Homo sapiens: one gene and its partners. The protein of the gene in region 1 binds, or shares a complex with, the protein of each later gene. Each region holds a gene or a part of one and is shown on either strand. Other genes may lie near its edges.

Region 1 (7,027 bases):
ATGTAACTTATCACTATCAAACAATCTTTGACATTCCTTTAAGGGAAAACCATTACATTATAGTTTCTTTTTGTCCATTTTTAAGCAGGGGGTATTTATATTATCAATTAGCATTATTTGAGCATTTGGCAGCACAACCCACATTTATTTCCTCATGGAAGAGACAAGTTAGAAGTTTTCCTTGTTGAAAATGAAATGCACTCCCCGAGGGCCAGACTCAGAGTTGGAGATGCTTTGTTTACTCAGGGTTTCAGCCAAGGCTTCAGGTCCACAGAGGAAAACTCCTATTCTGGTACTTTTGGGAAAGAAAAAAAAAGACAATTTCAAGCTTTGGGATGAGATGTCTACAAAGCAGGTAGGTGAATTTCCCGTTAATTTGAGGCCCCAGGGCAGAGTCCCCTCTGCTCCTTTTTCTTTTCCACAAATAGCAAAGGGATCATATTGCTCAGAGGGAGTGTGGTTCAGCCTGTTTGTGTGAGCATCTGGATAGTTCAAAAGGTAGTTGACTTCCCTGGCAAAAGTAAAATCCAACCAAGGTTTTTGGAAACTTCTATCACAGAGAAAATGGTGGTGAATTCATGAGTCCGTGGGCTACTTTCCTTCAGGGCTCTGTGCCCCCTGGCATCTTGAAATTAGGAACAAGCTAACTATGCCAACCACTCAGTGTGGCTTCATTTCTCTAAATTTTAGAGTCTGAAGCCCTGTTCAAAGTGTGGTTTCTGATCAGTAGCCTTGGCGTCAGCTTTTTAAAAAATGCAGATTACCTGGCCCTACCTCAAATCTTCTAAATTGGTATCTGCATTTTAAAGAGATCCCCAGGCACTTTGTATGCTCCTTACAGTGCAAAAAGCAATAGTCTGAAGGGTACACGTATGGTGATCTCTTGAGTTTCTTAGGTGTTCTAGCAAGATAAGGGATCCCCCTCAAGGTTTTATAATGACTAAAGTTTTAGTGAGAGCAGAAAGCACCTTGAGACATCTGTCAACTTAAGATTTTAGACCCAGAAGCTTTTAGAACTGAAAGTGGGGACAGTGTCTTCTTAACAATATGTATAAATTATATTGAATCTTTAAAAGAAGTAGATACACTAATGAAATTTAGGTGACTAAAGAAAAGAACTAAGCTGTGGCCCTACTTGGGACAGGCAGGTTGAGAAAATCTGAGATGGGGACCTGGAAATACTTGTTTTTAATTAATCTCCAGGTAATTTGGTATAATTTAAAGATCCTTCTTAAAGTTGAAGATATCTGGAATCTTCTGTTGGGCATGAATTCAATCTTTATATAGTAATATACATATTTGAGTTTCTAAAATATATAAGTTTAGATATGTATAGGGGCTGCCGCTTTAGGCAGATGCAAGCCTCAAAAACATCTTGGTGACAGACTCCTTACTTAGGGTGTTGACTTGCAATTGTCTTGAATTCATTATCCCAGTTGGGCCGTCCATACAAAGTCTTTTGTTTCAGGCCTGTGATCACATCTTTCTCCTCATCATGGTGCACAGCAAAGTGATTGGCCTACAGGAAAGGACATGAATTCAGAAAAAAAAGAGACATTCTGTAAAAGCACATACAATGTATTTACATCCTTCACAAGCTATTCTAACCAAGGCACCCTGCTGGATGCTGAAAGGTAAACAAAGATAAATAAACTGGATCTCTCTCAAGCAATTTACAGTCTAGAAAGGGAGACTTCGAAGTATAAATATAAATAATCCCATATGTCGAACAGGGTATGATGTGTGTCATGAAGGAGGCACAAGCGTCCTAATGAGAACAAAGAAGGAAGGTGAAGTGGAAGAATAGGGGAAGGGTTAGGGCCGCAGTATTTGAGTCAGGCATTGATGGATGAATAGTGTCTCACTGTTTTTCTCTCTGCTCTATGTTTGACTTTTTCTCTCCACCCTAATATACTTCCACTCCTTTGGGAGAATTACTAAGAGATGTAACAATTTTAGACTAAAATGCAGCAATACTTTGGTAGCATAAGACATCAAATCAAGCCTAAAGCTAGTGTGTGTGTATGTGTGTGTGTGCACGCACATATGTGTATATAGTCACATACTGTTTTTCTGCTACCATTCTAGGAGGCTTCAGTTTGAGCAACAGGTATTTTTCATAAAAGTGGTTAATTAAATTTATTTTTAAAAAGCAAATCAGATTTGAAATTCACTAGATGGATGATGGTCATAGAGGAGGTTAAGAAAGGTGGGCACTCCAATTTAATAATTCTATAGATATCAGTTTTGCAAAGCAAAATAATTACTTTTTCAATACAAATAAATAACTGATTTAAAAAAGAAACCTGTGCATGGCTTTTAAAATAACAGAACAGTAAAGCAATTTATATACTATAGATTTTTTTCCTGAGTTTTATTTTTATCAAAGCATTTTTGTTTTGTTTTTAAATTGCAGAACTGGCATTTTGAAACCACTTTTTATGGAGCAACAATTCTTATCGTTATGTTTCCCTAATCTATATTTGCTACAAGATTCCTTTAAGACTTGGAGAATCTGTGATAAACAATATGTTGAAACCCAAATGGGAATTCAGTCTTCACAGTGACAGGGTGCACATGGAAGATTCCCAGGGTTGTGGAGTCAATGTCTATGTATGCCCAGTTGCTACAGTTTGAATGTATCCTCTCCAAAATTCAGATGTTGCCTATGTGATAGCATTAAGAAGTGGAGCCTTAAAAAGGTGATTAAGACATGAAGGATCATCCCTTATGAATGAGTTAAGGGCTTTGGAAAAGAGTCATCACACAGTATTTGACGAGCCTTCCCTTTTTCTTTCCACCATGTGAAAACACAGTATTTCTCCCACCCAGAAGATGCAGCCTTTGCTAGACAACCAAACCTGTTGGTGTCTTGATCTTGGACTTGCCAGCCTCCAGAACTTTGAGAAAATAAATTTCTGTTCTTTACAAACTACCCAGTCTTGGGTGTTTTGTTATAGCAGCACAAATGGACTAAGACACCAGCTGAGACACTGGACAGAAATATGCAGAGACTCTTGCCTTAGCTCCTCACTCATGGTGATAGCTTATGCTGCTTCCAGGCCAAGTCATTAACGTTTGCTTACTTACAAAGATGTTACCACTCCAGGAATCATTACCTTGTTTCAGGGTTTGTCAATTTCAGCACTGTTGATATTTGGGACTGTATAATTCTTTGTTGTGGGGGGCTGTCTTTTTAATTGTAGGATATTTACATTGCCAACTGTCTCTGGTGTGTGTCTTGGGGAGGAGCAGAGCAAAATTGTCCCAGTTGAGAACTATTGGCTACTTTATTATAGTGGTCTCCAAACATTTTTGAAAGAGCACTCTCATTGTACACACACATACACACACACATACATGCATATATATCACATTCATTAGATATATAGTAATTTATTTATAAATGATAATCATGAACTACTGCAAGATGCTGAAAGGACAGGCTCTGGCACATTCTGTCTCTGTCACTTACTTGTTGGGTGCTCTTAGGAAAATGACCTAACCTGGTCTGAGTTTTTTCATCTGTAAAGTGTGGAAAATAATAAGAGCTACTTCATAGGGTTGGTGACATGATAAAATTAGACAATCTATGTGACTAGATACATAAGAATAATACCTGGCAATATATATGCATAATAATTATAAATGTAGTGAGTATATTATAAAACATACAAAAGCATATAAATTAAATGATTTTATAAATACATATATACATAGTACATATAAATATATATGATACATATATAAATACATATTAAAATATATATATACAGAATCCTTTATATGCTTATGTATGTTATATAAACAGATGCTCCTCAGCTTACAATGGTGTTATATCCTGATAAAACCATCACTAAATTGAAAATACCATAAGTCTAAAATGGGTTTAATACATCTAACTTAATAAACATCATAGTTAGTTTAGTCTAGACTACCTTAAATGTGCTCAGAACACTTATATTAGCCTACAATTGCACAAAATCATCTAACATGAACCCTATTTATAATAAAAGGTTTAAGACCACATGTAATTTATTGAATACAGTACTGAAGTATGGCTTGTACTGAAGTATGGCTTCTACTGAATGCATATTGCTTTCACTTCATTGTAAAGTTGAAAAATCATAAGTTGAACCATTATTAAGTTGGGGAGTGTCTGTTTTACACACACACACACACACACACAGAGACAGAGAGAGAGAGACAGAGAGACAGAGAGAGAGACAGAGAGAAAGAGAAAGCTAAATTTTCCCCAAAATAACCCTGTGCATCATCTCAATCACCTGGTTTCAGAGTGCCTGGTGGGAGAATTGCTCTAATAATGTCAAAGTGATGGCTTTTATTCCCTCACAGGCTCCTTGGCTTTGATTCTAATCTGAGCAGTCTAAATATAATGTGGCGATACTAAATGAGAGTGAATGGACCGGATCACCAAATCCACTAAACATACTTAGAAAAAATAGTACACAAGACACACCAATAACCAAGGGGAAGTTCGTAAGCCCTGTACACTATGGGAAGGACCTGAGCCTTGGAGTCTTGTCCTTACCTGAGACTCATCCCAGCCAGTGAGGTAGATGTTGTAGCTGAGGAAGCCGGCATTGTTCCTTTCCTGCATCTGGCTCTCCAGCAGTTGCAGCAGATCTGCAAACCACTCAAAGGCATGTGTGTCCCGGCACAGCCAGTAGAAGTAGATCTGAAAATGGGGTGGATCATGAAGCAGATTATATTTGGCAGGCCCTATCAGCATTACCATGTGGAATTCCACTTTCTGTCACCTAAACTTTTTCTTGATGCTCAGAATGCCTAGAAACATAGATTTTCAGAAGGCTCTGGACATTTCACAGGGTAGTTTACATGAACCTGCTCTGGCCTTCACTCTAGCAGGGCAGTAAATAAGTAACTTGACCTCAGAAATACACAACTTAAGAAAAAACTATTAGCCCACCAAATTTCCCTCTGAGTCTGCTCTTACTCTCCCAGAATCTCTGGCTTCCTTCGAACCTCTTCTCAGAAAGCCTGATGGAATCTAGACTAGCAGGGATTGCCACAGAAATTCTTCCCTGGCTGCTACTGCCAGACATTCATGAGTTCCGAGGGGAAAAATAAGGTTCTATGCACATCTCCTCCACATGGAAAAGAGGTACAGGGAGAATGAAAAGTCAAGGTAGGCTTAATGTCCCTATTAGAGTTTATCTTTACAGTTATTAGAATGGCCTGAGGTTTATTTAGGATGCCCTTTATTACACAATAAAACCAAATTTATAGGTAACCAAAAAATCTCCTGTGAATTGATCCTGAGGAGATATTCATAAGTAGAGTTTCAGGTCTCCTCTCCTCCCTTTGCAAAAAAAGTATTGGGTGAGTGGAGGGGGTGGGGCGCGGCTGGAAATTGAATCAATCTCAGTATCTAACACAAGATGAAAGAAAAATTATTCAATATCCTCTCAATAGAACATGAAGAGATCATTTAAAGTCATCATTATAAAGCCTGTGAAGACATTGAAAAACACTTTCTATAATGTTTTTTTAAAAGCAGGACATGAAATTATACATACTTAATATTTACAACCTTCTAAAAATATGTAAACATGGAAAATATTAGAAGAGAATATACAAAAATTACAGCTATTAAGTTGGGGCTGTGAATACTTTCCCAACTTTCTTTCTTCTGAATTTCCAGCAACACTATACAAATACAATATATTCCCTTCACTAATAGGCCTACTTATCTAGAAGCACATTAGATTTAACAAATATTCTTTTGAAGAAAAGCCTGTCTCTCTGGAACCACCGGAAGCTTTTCTTCACTTCCCATGGTCTCTGCCAACCTTAGCCCTGAAAGCACTCTCAGGCCTCACATGGCAGAGTATGGTTACTGCTCTAAGGCCCTCCGATAAATGAAAGGACTTACCTTTTTGAGCTTCAGATTGGTGGCGTTATTGCAATATTTGTACCAGACTGACTTGAGAATGGATGCGAAGGGTGTGACCCCAATCCCTGCTCCCACTAACATCACCACCTCATAGCTGAACACATCTTCACTGGCAGTGCCAAAGGGCCCATCAACCGCTATCCTGAAGGGAAATGGGGAGGAGATAGTTACAGAGATGTCTTGCTCTTCAGAGTGAGATGGGGCACCCATAATTATTGGGGATGTGCAACATGTTAATTCAAATTGGAATAATGTATCTATTGGGTGCTTCCTTCTATGAAATAGCTTTCAAGTAACCAAACTTAGTGCCAACGTTGGGTTTGGAAGTAAAAAGAGAAATATTTGGCTAACCAAAAACATTCGGTAACTCAGAACAAGTTTTTTTTTTTTTTAATCTCCCCACCCCTCTTCACACACAACAACGCCCCCTCCACACACACCCTATGTCTTGCCAGGACATCCCACTCTTGAAATTCTTGCATACGGTGCACCCTGAAGTGAGGATTTGCTGCATCATTACATCTTGTAGATTTAATGTCTCCACTTTTCATTTATCTATTCATTGAGTTATTCAACAAACTCTCAAACCTTTCTTTAGCACCTACTAAGTGCCTTATAGCATGTTAGGCATGCAGGGAAAAGGAGGCAAAGGGGCTAATATATGGCATTTAACCTCAAATAAATTATGCCAATGAAAATTTAAGAATATTTTTGATACACTACAATTATATTTGTTAGGAAAGTTAATATAACTTGGCCTTGACCCTTACATATTTAAAGGAATTTGGGAGTATTTATTTCTAATATTTGATTCAAGGTTTTCATATTTCACATAAGATTTATGAAAATATGCATAAACACACTACACATATGAAACGGTGACCACAGAAATAGCTACCTATATTCTTAGAACCTGTGTGTTTTGTTGGAGACTTAGTAAAACATGGAGGAAGAGGAGCTATTTAGTGCCATTTTTCCTGAACTCATATACGTTGGTAATATGTACTTTTTACTCACTTAGGTAGTTTCCACGCATCTTGAAACTCCTGCTTATCACAGCCACAAGCATTGAACAGCCCCTCTGTCCAG
Region 2 (7,027 bases), on another chromosome or scaffold:
GCTCATTTTCAGCAAGAGAGCTAGCTGGCCACTAGAGCTACCCTCTGCAGGGTTTCCAGAAGGCCTGAGTGTAGAGCAGTCACACAAAATACACCTGACTTAACAAGCCTCCCAATAACATTTTCAAAGTGAGTGTTAACTGATGATACAAATGTTTAAATTCATGTGAAGTTGCTACACAAATTAGTCAGGAGAGATAACCCAGCAAAGCCTATAGGCTGACAGAGGGAAATCAGACTGATGTTAAAAATTGCTACTGGTCAGCAGAAACCAAGCTTTAGAAGAAAATAGTGTTTCCTCTGCACAGGAAGGCAAAAAAGAAAAAAAAAAAAAGGAAAAATATAATAAAAAGCAGAGGCTGGGCACGGTGGCTCACGCCTGTAATCCCAGCACTTTGGGAGGCCGAGGTGGGCGGATCACCTGAGGTCAAGAGTTCGAGACCAGCCTGGCCAACATGACGAAACTTTGTGTCTACTAAAAATGCAAAAATTAGCCAGGGCGTGGTGACAGGCACCTGTAGTCCCAGCTACTTGGGAGGCTGAGGCAAGAGAATCGCTTGAACCCGGGAAGCAGAGGTTGCAGTGGGCCAAGTTGCGCCACTGCACTCCGGCCTGGGCAACAAGTGCGAAACTCGGTCTCAAGAAAAAAGAAGAAGAAGAAAGAAAAGGTGTGATGGTGATGGACATGTTAATTATATTTCCATAAGAAAAAAATTATTGGATAAATAGTATTGTGACTTTTTTTCCCCATAAGGGAAAAAGAATCAGGTCCTTGCCTCATTCTATACCAAAAATAAGTCCTAAATGAATTAAAGATAAAAATTTTAGCCACAAAAATCCTAGAAAAAAATACTAGAGCATACTTTTGCATTATTTAAGTAGGAAAGGCCTTTCTAAGTACAACATACAATTCTGAGGGAGAGGTGGTATTATCATTATTATTATTATTTTTTTTTTGAGACAGAATCTCACTGTCACCCAGGCTGGAGTGCAGTGGTGCGATCTCGGCTCACTGCAACCTCCACCTCCTGGGTTCAAGTGATTCTCCTGCCTCAGCCTCCTGAGGAGCTGGGATTACAGGTGCACGCCACCATGCCCGGTTAATTTTTGTATTTTTAGTAGAGATGGGGTTTCACCATGTTGATCAGGCTGGTCTTGATCTCCTGACCTCATAATGCGCCCACCTCAGCTTCCCAAAGTGCTGGAATTACAGGTGTGAGCCACCGTGCCCGGGTAAGGTGGTATTATTTACATTAAATGCTAAATTTCTATATGGCAGAAGACACCATAATGAAGTACAAAGACAAATGACAGACTGAGGATTATTTACAAAACGTTCCATCAGGCTACGTGCAGTGGAGCATGCTACTCAATAGGCTGAGGTGGAAGGACCAGTACTTCAAGTCCGGCCTGGGCAATACTGCAAGACCCCATCTCAAAAAAAAAAAAAAAAAAAAAGGGAGGGAGGGAGGGAGCAAGGGAGGGAGGGGAAAAGAAAGGAGAAGGAAGGAGGGAAGGAGGGAAGGAGTAGGAGAGGAGGGAAGGAGGGAGAGAGGGAGGGAGAGGAGGAGGGAGGGAAGAAAGGAAGGGAGGAAGGGAGGGAGAGAGGGAGGGAGGGAAGGAAGGAAGGAAATGTTCCATCAGTAAGAAAAAATTTCAGTAGAAAAATACAAAAGATTTAAACAGACAATTCACAAGAGACTAAAAATGTACAGTAAACATTCAAAAGAGCCAGGTGTGGTGGCTCACGCCTGTAATCCCAACACTTCGGGAGACCAAGGTGGAGAATCACCTGAGGCCAGGTCTTCAAGACCAGCCTGGGCAATATAGCAAAACATAGCTCTACAAAAACACATATTTTTTTTTTCTTTTTTGGAGACAATGTCTTGTTCTGTTGCCCAGGCTGGAGTGCAGAGGCACAATCTTGGCTCACTGCAACCTCCACCTCCCAGGTTCAAGCAATCCTCCTGCCTCAGCCTCCCGAATAGCTGGGATTATAGTCATGTGCCACCATGCCCAGCTAATTTTTGTATTTTTAGTAGAGACAGGGTTTCACCATCTTGGCCAAGTTGGTCTCAAACTCCTTACCTCAGTGATCCGCCCAGCTCAGCCTCCCCAAGTGCTGGGATTACAGGCGTGAGCAAACTTTTTTAATTAAAAAAAAAAAAAATTCAAAAGATTTTAACCACATCTGTGATTGGAAATGAAAACGGTTAGATAACTTCAACCCACGTTAATGGCAGTGTGTACTAAGAGGCCACTTAAGTCAAGGCCAGCAAAGTGACAGCTTTATAGACAGCAATTTGGTAGTTATCTACCAAAAAATAATTTTTTAATTTTTTTTTTTTTTTGGGAGACAGAGTCTCACTCTGTTACCCAGGCTGAAGTGCAGTGGCACAATCTTGGCTCACTGCAACCTCTGCTTCCCGGGTTCAAGCAATTCTCATGCCTCAGCCTCCTGAGTAGCTGGGACTACAGGAGTGCACCACCACACCCGGCTAACTACTGTATTTTTAGCAGAGGTGGGGGTTTTAACATGTTGGCCAGGTTGGTCTCGAACTCCTGACCTCAAGTGATCCTTCCGTCTTGGCCTCCCAAAGTGCTGGGATTACAGGCGTGAGCAATCACGCCCAGCTGTATCTACCAAAATTTAAAACATCCATTGTCTTTTGATTTGGCACGATTTTGCTTCTAATAATCTATCAAGTGTACACAAAGACATAAGGGACAACACTGAACCCAGCAATGTTTGTTAACACCAAGAGTCCAAGTGACCAGTGGGTTAAATCAGTTATAGTACTTCAAAATCATTAATCATTAATGATTAAACCTTTATCTACATATGTAGATAAGGAAAATCTCCCCCATAAATTTAGGACAACAGGGACAGCATGATTCCACTTACAGTAAAAAATGGGTGCCGTGGCTCACGCCTGTAATCCCAGCACTTTGGGAGGCTGAAGTGGGCAGATCACCTGAGGTCAGGAGTTTGAGACCAACCTGGCCAACATGGTGAAACCCGTCTCTACTAAAGAAACAAAAATTAGCCAGGTGTGGTGGTGTATGCCTGTAATCACAGCTACCTGGGAGGCTGAGGCAGAGAATCACTTGAACCCAGGAGGCAGACGCTGCAGTGAGCTGAGATCGCATCACAGCACTCCATCCTGGGCAAGAGAGAGAGACTAACTCCAAAAAAAAAAAAAAAAAAGGAAAACAACAACAACAACAACAAAAACATGGGTACGACACTTCAGAGAGCACCTGGGTGTGTGTTGTGCCTGAGGAGGTGAACACAGGTGGGGAGGAGGCGACACCTCCCCAGCCTGCACAGGGAGGACTCACAGCAGCTGCAGGATGGTGCATTATGAGGCTCAGCTACGTGCGCTCCCGGGTAACCCATCACCAGAGCAGCACTTTCCTGTCTCCACCCAATTCTGCTGCCTATAGGGAGTAAGCAATTCAATAGCCAATTCCACCCTCCCATTCCCCCTTCAACACACACACCCAAGTTTCAATTCCAAAGCCCTACACCTCAATGCGGACATGTAACCAACTGATGACTTATCAGAAAAGGCCAATTAAAACGTAATGGAATCTTTCCCTTTCCAGTTCCCAGAAAGCCAGTGTATCTGAAACTCGTGCACTGACAAGGACTGTTTCTGATCAGACTTTTGGTCAGAGTTCTTGTGTCCAACTATGGTTTTCTTTAACATCATCCAGTCTCTGTACCTCACAGACAGTTAAAGTTTGCTTTCTGGATGTCTAAAAATCAACTAGCAAAGTTGTGAAAAGTTTATATTACCCTAAGTTTCTTTTTTTTTTTTCTTTTGAGATGGAGTTTCGCTCTCATTGCCCAGGCTGGAGTGCAGTGGCGTGATCTTGGCTCACTGCAACCTCCGCCTCCACGGTTCGAGTGATTCTCCTGCCTCAGCCTCCCAAGTATGTGGGATTACAGGCACCCGCCACCACACCTGGCTAATTTTTTGTATTTTTAGTAGAGATGGGGTTTCATCACGTTGACCATGCTGGTCTCGAACTCCTGACCCTCAGTTGATCCACCCGCCTCAGTCTCCCAAAGTGCTGAGATCACCACCCCCAGCCCTATTTTTTAAAAGCCTAATATACCTTATAATTAGGTTTCAGTGAATGTTTAAGAAAAAATTAGTATCTGTTCATATGAGGATTAAAGATGGCTTTACAGCAAAACAAATGGTCAAAGAAATGTGAAACCCGTAACACAAACAGGTTAATTCCCAATTTAAGATACTTACACAGTAGGGATATATTCTCCAGGAAATGCATTGGTTGTGTAACTGATCAGTAGGCAAGTTTTACCTACAGCTCTAAAGAGAAAGAGAAAAAAGGTTGCTTAGTCAACATGAATGTAATCTTAGCTTTCACTATTAAGTTAAAATAATTTCTAGAGAAAAAAAATCAAGGCATATACATCACATACTTAGCATTAAAGAAAATGTTTTCTATAACCCTTTATCACCACATACACATTGGTACCCTGAAATTTAAAGTAAACAAACTAGAATTTCTCAGAAAGATAGAGTCAGGAGCCATCACATTCTGTTTAGGTACCCGGTGTTAGCATTAATAGTCAAGAAACAGTTGTCACCTAGCTACAAGACTCAAGAGAAACAAGATTTTAAAACTTCACGTCTCTTCTGTGAACATCTGTAGAGCCTCTCATCAAGAATCTTAAGTTTGATCCTGAAGATATTTTCTTTTTTTCTTTTTTTTCTTTTTTTTTTTTTTTTGAGACCGAGTCTCGTGCTGTCGCCCCAGCTGGAGTGCAGTGCAGAGGCACCATCTTGGCTCACTGCAACCTCTGCCTCCCAGGTTCAAGCGATTCTCCTGCCTCAGCCTCCCAAGTAGCTGGGATTACAGCTGTCCACCACCACGCCTGGATAATTTTTTTGTATTTTTAGTAGAGATGGGTTTTCGCCATGTTGGCCAGGCTGGTCTCGAACTCCTGACCTCAAGTGATCCGCCCACCTGGACCTCCCAAAGTGCTGGGATTACAGGCTGGAGCCACCACACCCAGCCTAAAGGTATTTTAATTAACACTAATATACAAACACAGCCTTCCTCTTTAAGTAACTTATTCTGCTGCCTTAAGTGGGACAGCTCAAAATCCCACCACATCCCTACAGCCTCCCCTATGGCAATCAGCAATGACTGTTCTCTTGAGAGAAAGTGCTTAGTCAATAAACTACCACACGTAACTGCCATCACATTGATTCAGCTGTATTTAAATGCCACCTCCCCCAGCCCCAATCCTCACACAGCACCATAAGTCTATAAGCAGGGACTATCACAATACATCCCAGACATTTAATTAACAGCTCAGAGACGATGGGAGTTAAACTTGCCAAACAGAGAAGTGTGTAGAAATACTTCAGAGAAAGGAGCACCACCTGCACAACTGGCAATGGGTAGAGACTAATCCTAATATTACCAGTGTGCCGCCAGGCAGAAGAGTGGTGGCTGAAAGTCTCCCAACCACCTGGAATGTTTTTCAAGAGGCTATCACCTAATAACTAAGGTCACCACATCATTAGCAAAACATAAAGGTCTCCAATTTTTACAGCATTGACAAGGCAAGCTTAAGGGCTTACATGAGAATTCAAGTCTCTGGCATCCTGAGGGTTCAGTTAGCCAAGTGCTCTCCTTAATGAGCCCTTCTCTCTGCTGTGCTGTCAGTTTACCAAGGTCACAATGACACATCAGCATCATAATTTTAAGATTTTTGTCGTTCAATCTCAACTACTATAAATTAGAATTCACCATAAAGTTAAGCGCTTTTCCATTTTCCCTCACACTCAAGGCAGATTACAGGCCCAGCCAGTCTTGCCAATATTCATTCACTCATGACATTATTGAGGGCTTAACAAAAGTTGGAACTCCCCATTCCAAAGACTTTAGAGAGTCAAACATTACATCACCAGGAAGTAGCTTCCAACTCCTAAAGGCTTTCTAAACAGAAATGACTCATTGGACATACATTTCGTTAAAAGCTTAGAATGTGAAAATAAACCTGTATGAGCAGGAGCCTAAGCTTTGGAGTCAGAAGCCCAGATTTGAGACCCAGGGCCAATTCTAGCACGTACTGGCTGTATTTTTTGGCAAGTTTCAACTTCCTCATGCCTTTTTTTTTCACCTGCAAAATTAATGCAGAACTACCAGCTCCATCCCCAAACTACTGTGAGCATTAATTCAATTTCAATTTATATCAACCGTGTGCTACACCAGAAGCACACTAGGTGCTAAAGATGTATCAATGAACAAGACCTCATGAAGTAAGTGCAGTTGTTAAATTTAAAAATTAAGAATGCAATCATCACATGAAATTATGCGTGTGATAACTGTCATTATTAAAGCAGCTCTGGAAATGTACAGCAAAAGAGCTAACATTTCTAGAGCTGAAAAAAATATTTTTAGGCCAGGCATGGTGGCTCATGCCTGTAATCCTAGCACTTTGGGAGGCTGAGGTGGGTGGATCGCTTGAGCCCAGGAGTTCAAGACCAGCTGGGCCAACATGGAGAAACCCGTTCTCTACTAAAAATACAAAAATTAGGTGGGTGTGGCGGTGTGCAGCAGTAGTCTCAGCTACTTGGGGGGCTGAGGCACGAGGATCACTTGAACCCAGGAGGGAGGTCAAGGCTGCAGTGAAACAAGATTGCACCAGTGCATCCAGTCTGAGGGACAAAGTGAGACCCTGTCTCAAAAAAATAAATTTTTTTAAATTAAAAAATAAAAGCCTGGTGCAGTGGCTTAGGCCTGTAATCCCAGCACAGGAGGCTATAATCCCAGCACAGGGGCCTGAGGTGGGAGGATCGCTGAGCCCAGGAGTTCAAGACCAGCCTGGGCAACATAGGGAGACCTTGTTTCCACAAAAAATTCAAAAATAAGTGGTGGCTCTTGCCTGTAGTCCCAGCTACTCAGGAGGCTGAAGCAAGAGGATCCCTTCAGCCCAGGAATTCAGGGCAGCAGTGAGCTGTGATCACACCACTCCACCC
Region 3 (7,027 bases), on another chromosome or scaffold:
TCCCACGCCATACACCCCTCCCACGCCATACACCCTCCCATGCCATACACCCCTCCCACGCCTCCCACGCCATACACCCCTCCCACGCCATACACCCCTCCCACGCCATATACCCCTCCCACGCCATACACCCTCCCACGCCATACACCCCTCCCACGCCATACACCCCTCCCACACCATACACTCCTCCCATGCCTCCCATGCCATACAAGCCCTCCCACGCCATACACCCCCTCCCACGCCATACATCCCTCCCACGCCTCCCATGCCATACACCCCTCCCACGCCATACACCCCCTCCCACGCCATACACCCCTTCCCATGCCTCCCACGCCATATACCCCTCCCACGCCTCCCACACCATACACCCCTCCCACGCCATACACCCCTCCTATGCCATACAACCCCTCCCACCCCATACACCCCCTCCCACGCCATACACCCCTCCATGCCGTACACCCCCTCCCAAGCCATACAACTGAACACCAGGCTCTGGGGGCCGCCATCCAGTCCCAGTGGGGTCACCTGGAGGCTGTGTCACCAGGAGCAAGGAGTTTAACGTCACCGTGCCTCAGTTTCCTCATGTCTGTAATAGCGAGCGTGAACTCAGTGAGAGACTAAGGCCTCCAGGGCAGGTCTGTGTCTTTCTTGGACACATAGCCCTTAGTCCGTGGAAGGAGGGCGGGAATTTTGATGCTTTTCTGTGAAGGAAAGGGCTCAAGCATCAGTGACCAAATCTCTGGGAGCCTCACCTTCTAGAAAATTGTCTTGCCCATCCCTCCAGGATTCTCCCAGGGTTGCAAATAATCCCCAGGAGGCCTGAAGCCCTCAGGGCCCCCTCCCCAGGAACTTCCCAACATCATCAGCCCCTTCCTTAGCACCGTCCCTGTCTTACAGACAAGGAAACTGAGGCTCCTGGAGAGTATGCGACTCATCCAAACTCACACGCTGGATGTATTCCCTCAACCTGGGCCCAGCTGGGGGCCTTCTGGGAGGAGTGGCATTGGAGAGCTCCTCTGTCCTGCCATGGGAGGCCCAGCCTTCTCCCACATGAAGACCCCTCAGGGCTAGAGCCCGGGGCACAGATGAGGAGAAAGGCAGGCCTAGTTCCCACCCCCAGGGACGGCGTTCCATGACATTCTGCAAAGAGTCCGTGTGACTTCCCATGTCCATTTCAAGCTGCACAGTTTCCCTGAAGTGAAAAACCACAAAACCCCTTCTGCCGAGATGCTATGCAGGCCTGGGGGCCGATGTCAGAACCAAGAGGAAGGAGAAGGGAGGGGAGGGGAACTCTGGGCCCTCCGCCAAAGCCCGCTTGCTTCTCTGTGGCAGGATGGAAGGGGATGGACGCTGGTCACCACCTACCCTGTGCCAGGCACTGAGCTGGGTGCTTCCAACAACACCGGGGTGAGTTCCCATTTCACAGACCAGGAAACAGGCCCAGAGTGGGGAAGCCAAGGCCCGAAGGCACAGAGCTGGGGGGAGAAGTCGGGATGGCAGGAGGGGCAGCCCCTGGAACAGGGGAGCCCACTGAGGCCAGGTGCTGGGGAGAAAGGAAGGGTGGGGCAGGGACGAGGAGCCTGAGGCTCAGAGAGGATGTCACTCGCTCTGAGTCACATGCTGGGCGTCTCCCCTCTACCTGGAGGCATATACGCCCACCAGGGATCATGGGCAGTGGTTGTCATGGGGCTTGGCTGGCAAGAGCAGGGTGCCCTGAGCTCAGCCCGGAGTCTGGTCACCACAGCCCCCTGTGTTGAGGAGGTGTCACTGGGCACTTGGCCACTGTCTCCTTATAAGGGACCACATCTGCGTCCACTTCCCCCACATCCACCAACTGCCTTTTCCCTGGCACCCAGCCACCCACTCACCCAGGACAAGGGTCCTGAGCTGGGGGGCCAGGGCTCACTTTGGCTCGGCCTCTCACTGCTCTAGGACTTTAGTCAGTTCCCCCTCTCCGGGCCTCAGTCTCCCATCTGTCTAGGACTCATTGCCATGCGATGGCTCATCAAGCTGAGGCAGGGGGCAGGGGAGCTACAGAGAGGGCAAGGAGGGTGAGGGGGCGGTGGGGGCAGTGGAGGTGCAGGGAGGACAGATGGCCCTCAGCTTTGTGGCTTAGGGAGCCAGTCCACCCCTGTCAGAATCCTGGCTGGGTGGCCTTAAGCCAGCAACATGTCCCCCCGAGCCTGTTTCCTCTCTGTAAAGTGAAGGTGACAAGAGCTCTTCGTCATAGCTGCTGTGAGAATGAAGTGGCTCCCAGGAAGTGCTCAGTCCACATCAGCTGTGATTATCAGCTGGGCTCAGGGCTGCCCCCAAAACTTGTCATCCCAGGGCTGGGGAGTCCAGGTGGGCAGAGGCAGTTGCTGCTTCCCTCACTATCCCTGCCAGTCCCCCCAGGACTCCCCCTAGGCCTAAGCTGGTCTGAGGCACAGTTAAAATCACTGCCCCTGCCCCAGCTCCATGCAGGGTCAGCCAGGAAAGACTGGCTAGAGGCCAAGGCAAGAACTCTGAGTCACCACCTTATGGAGGAGAGAGGGCCTTTGGGGATTGTCCAGGTCAGCTTATGTGGAGAGGGAGACTGAGGCCCAGAGAGGGGCAGCCACTAACCCAAGGTCACACAGCCAATCAGTATCAGAGCCAGGACCAGAATCCAGGCCTCCAGCACCCTCCACATGATCCCAAAGCATGTGCTTTACAAGGGAGAGGTCAGTGACAGCCAGGCCACAGGCTGGAGAGCTGCACCCTGAATAGAAGGAGTCCAGGGGCAGGGGTTGGAGGGGTGCTGGTTGGTCAGAAAGAGAAGGCAGGGATGAATCCTTGATATTTAAAAGGAAAGACTTGCAGGCTGGGGAGCTGTGGCCCTAGGACAGGGGAAGGGAGCCAGGGTGTGAGCCATAGTCTGAGGCCCCCGGGGAAGATGGCTGTGTCACCACGCTAGTCACAGAAGGAGGGAGGTGGTGGCTGCGGTTTCTCTTCCTGTGAAGAGATGTGAGTCCCCAGGGCCCTCCCAGTTCCGGCAGGGGGAGGTGGGGCGGGGCTGGGGCGGTGGGGCGGGAGGAGGTCTAGTGGATTCAATTTGGGGGCCAAACCCTGGGCCTGCAGAGTCCTGTGGTGAGGCAGAGGGCACAGCTCATATGACCAAACCCAGCTGGTGGTTTTGGGCTTTTGGGCAAGGATCCCTGAGCTACAGACACATTGGGACCTACCAGGGACAGGGACAGGAACAGCCAGCAGGCCTGGGTACCATGCATGAAGCCAGACCCATGGTCATCGCCTCCCTGATGCAGGCAGCCCTGAGCCACTACAAAGAAGCACCCCCCAGCAGTGAGCCAATAATTTGCTGTCCTTCCTTCAAATCTGGCTGGGCCACCTACTAGCTGGGTGACCTTGAGAAGTTACTATATTTCTCCAGCCCAGTGATTTGGAGGCAAAGAGGGGTCGAGCTGAGAAACCAAAGGGAGTGGGGAAAGGGAGGAGAGAAGGTGGTGGAAGGAAATGTGTCACCCTTTAGATCTAATGCAGCGCCACCTCCTCCAGGAAGCCTTCCCAGAACACCCAAGTTTGACTTGCCACTTGTCCTCCAAGCAACCACAGCACCCCCACTCAATCTCTGCTTCTGTCTGCTCAAAGCACACCTCCTTATTTTCAGTATCTATTAATAGATACTACTCATACTACTAGGACGACTACTACTAACACAGAGTGCTTCTCACACACAGGTGCTGCCCTGGCAGCTCCACCTGGAATAAGTTACTGAATTCCCCCAACCACCCCAGGAGGCAGGAGCTATCACTATCCCATGCTTTTCTGATAAGGAAACACAGGCAGAGAGAGGCTACGTGACTCGCCCAAGGTCACACAGCAAGTGCACAGCACAGCTGAGTTCAAACTGCACAGCCTGGCCCTGCAGCCCGTGTTTACAATCACACCACGAGGCCAAGTCAGGGCCTCCCCTGCAGCCAGATCGCCCCTCTGAGCCCGAGGCCCATACCAATCTCCTTGGCCAGTGCCAGGCCCTGCGGGTAGGTGATGGGAGCCAGCTTCTTCTCCTTCAGTTTCTCGATGGTGTCCTTGTCGTCCCGCAGGTCCAGCTTGGTGCCCACCAGGATGATGGGTGTGCTGGGGCAGTGGTGCCGCACTTCTGGGAACCACTGGGCAGGTGGGTGGGGGGACACAAGGTTGTATGGGTCAAGAGGGGGCGCGAGGCTGTGCGGGGATCAGAGGGAGTGTGAGGGTGTAGGGAGAGGAGAGGCAGCAAGTTGCCAGAAGATCAGAGGTGGGCACGACGGTGAGGAGAGAGAGACGTGAGGTGGCACAGGGAGGGGAGGCCACGACGTTGTGCAGGAAGGAGGGGGCGCATGATTGTAGGAAAGGAGGAGGCGAGGTTTTGTGCAGACATAAGAAGCAAACATGAGGTTATGTGACAATCGGAGGCGGACATGAGGTTGTGTGGGGAGGAGGAGAATGCAGCCATGGAAAGTGGGGGTATAGCTAACTATCGCAGCACCCCCCACCCCAGGTCCTCTGAATCTTACCCCCTCAAGTCCCTCTGCCAGCCCTGGTTGGCACTGGGGACCCTCTCTGTATGCGACCTCTGCTGCCCCAGGGACCAGCCTAGAGTCACCAGTTCCTCCCTCTGTCCCTCAGGGTTACCTGCCCCAGAGCCCCCAAGGCCCACCCTGTCCAGCTCACCTTGGCGCGGACGTTCTCATAAGAGGCTGGGCTGACGAGGGAGAAGCAGATGAGGAAGACGTCCTGGGGACAGAGCAAGCGAGGTTGCTAGTGAGGAGGGCCCAGAGGTGTCCCACCATGGCAGCCACCGAGAGGTGGAGCTTGGGGCTCCCTGAGGGTGGAACACCCCAGGGAATGCTGGGGACTTAGGATCTGGGCAGAGCAGAGATACCCTTCTCGCCTCTACCACGAGGCTGCTGTTTGTTAGGACGCTCACTAAAGGCCAGGGCCTCTGCGAAGTGGTTATCCTCACATGTCACTCTGCAGCAAGCACTGCTGGTAGCCCCATTCCTCAGACAGGGAAAGTGAGGCTTCCAGAGGTTAAAGAGTTTGCCAACGTGCACTCTGGTGAGGGGAGGATCTGGGATTCTAGAGTCCATACTCCAATCCATATACTATCCACCATCTGATTACCGGCCTTAGCCGCCTCCCTGCATACCCTGGAGGAAGGGCGAGGACCCAGCAGCCACCTGCAGGCATCCTCCACCTCTCCCCTCCCCCAGCACTCCCAGGGCTCACCATGCTGGGCTGCCTCCTGGGGCCCTGTGCAGAATCCACCTGCCCCACCACTGGAAACAGGGGGTGCCAGAGCCCAGGAGGCAATGGGGTGGGAAGATGGGCACATTGAGGACCGGGAACCAATGCAGGGCTGAGGGAGTGCAAGAGGAAGCCCTTCTCTGCCTGGGACATGCAAGGCAGGCAGACTCCCTGAGCTGGGCCTTAAGGGGAGAGGTAGGGTTTCCCAGGCTGAGCTGGCTGGAAGGGCATCCCAAGCAGAGGGAACAGAGACAGCAAAGGTCAGGACTGCAAGGCAGGTGGGAGCAGCACACCGTCTGTGGATAGGAGAGCGGCCGGAGACGGTCGTAGTCCTCCTGCCCAGCAGTGTCCCACAGCCCCAGGTTCACTGGCTTGCTGTCCACCATCACATTGGCTGAATAGTTGTCAAACCTGTGGGGAGCAGGCAAGGCGGAGGTAAGGTCAATCTCAAACCCCAGAACCTGGGAATTGTGGTCCAGCTCCATGTCATTCCTCGGAGGCTGAGACCTAGAGACAGTCTGCGACTGGCCCAAAGTCACACAGCATTTGCAATTGGGTTTCTTTATTTGTTTCATTACTGATTCATTATATTTTTTAAAAATGTAATACAAGTTAACAAGAAGAAAAAAAGATTGTCTCTTAATCCTTTTCCTACCCGTACCTGTCCTTTGGAAAGGTAATTGAGGCTGTGTAACTTTTCCTCCCAGTCTTGATGAGAATAAACTTACCTCTCTCCCTATGCTGCCACTCAATGTTTGCTTTTTGTTGTTTTTTGTTTGTTTGTTTGTTTTTTGAAATGGAATCACGCTCTGTCGCCCAGGCTGGAGTGCAGTGGCACCATCTCGGCCCACTGCAAACTCTGCCCCCTGGGTTCAAGTGATTCTCCTGCCTCGGCCTCCCAAGTAGCTGGGATTACAGGCATGCACCACCACGCCCAGCTAATTTTTGTATTTTTAGTAGAAACAGGGTTTCACCATGTTGACCAGGCTGGTCTCGAACCCCTGAACTTAAGTGATCCGCCCGCCTCGGCCTCTCAAAGTGCTAGGATTACAGGCGTGAGCCACTGCGCCCAGCCGCAATATTTTGTCGAATGAATGTTCATCCCGTCTCAGGCTGGGTCCCCCCAGAAGCAAACCCTGAGACAAGGAGGTGATGTGAGGGGTTTATTCGGGAAGTGACTCCAGGATGCTGCAGAAGGGGAGTGGGGAGGAATAAAGGAGGGGACAGCAGCTGACACAGGGCAGGTGGTTGAGTTGTCATGGCTGTGGACTGCTGCTGCTCTCAGTCCTGCTGGGGCCACCTGGGAGACAGAACGGACCGTGCTCAGGGCGTCCCCAGAGAAGGCAGGAAGCTAGGGTGCTGTCATTCATCTCCCATCTTCCAGGGAAAGAGGGCTGCTTCCGGGGCCTTTCAGCCCACCCCAGAGTGTGCGTGAAAGCTGTTAGTCACTGGCCATGGGAAGGGCCACGGCAAACGGTAGAAAGACACATGCTGCCGAGGAGATGGTGTGAGGCACTGACCTTGACTCCCAATGTCTCCCGCCAGACCCAGAGAGCCCTGCAGGGCCATCGAACGAGCCTCCAGATGCACTTGCTAGGCACCTACTATGCATCGGGTGCAGAGCCAGCGCTGGGGCCACCAAGGAGTACATGCCTGATCCTGCCCCCACAGCTGGCGGAAGGCCAGACACGGGGTGAGGGGCCTGACAAATATCAGAGACGGGGAAGCCCAACGAATGCTGGGAGGGCCATCCCAGGGCTCC

The links. Proteins that work in one complex are often made in the same cells at the same time.
Region 2: CYBB (region 1) and RAC1 share a complex: the UniProt entries of both Homo sapiens proteins name them as parts of the phagocyte NADPH oxidase complex.
Region 3: CYBB (region 1) and RAC2 share a complex: the UniProt entries of both Homo sapiens proteins name them as parts of the phagocyte NADPH oxidase complex.

Annotation. Positions count from the first base shown.
Region 1 is NC_000023.11:37,804,059-37,811,085, reverse strand, and holds part of CYBB (NADPH oxidase 2), read right to left. Parts: coding exon 6,956-7,027; intron 6,081-6,955; coding exon 5,918-6,080; intron 4,700-5,917; coding exon 4,553-4,699; intron 1,520-4,552; coding exon 1,395-1,519; intron 296-1,394; coding exon 169-295; 3' UTR 1-168. UniProt on the Homo sapiens protein: Catalytic subunit of the phagocyte NADPH oxidase complex that mediates the transfer of electrons from cytosolic NADPH to O2 to produce the superoxide anion (O2(-)).
Region 2 is NC_000007.14:6,384,527-6,391,553, reverse strand, and holds part of RAC1 (ras-related C3 botulinum toxin substrate 1), read right to left. Parts: intron 4,343-7,027; coding exon 4,271-4,342; intron 1-4,270. UniProt on the Homo sapiens protein: Plasma membrane-associated small GTPase which cycles between active GTP-bound and inactive GDP-bound states.
Region 3 is NC_000022.11:37,227,243-37,234,269, forward strand, and holds part of RAC2 (ras-related C3 botulinum toxin substrate 2), read right to left. Parts: intron 5,677-7,027; coding exon 5,559-5,676; intron 4,753-5,558; coding exon 4,690-4,752; intron 4,149-4,689; coding exon 3,989-4,148; intron 702-3,988; coding exon of another isoform or gene 664-701; exon of another isoform or gene 497-663; intron 1-496. UniProt on the Homo sapiens protein: Plasma membrane-associated small GTPase which cycles between an active GTP-bound and inactive GDP-bound state.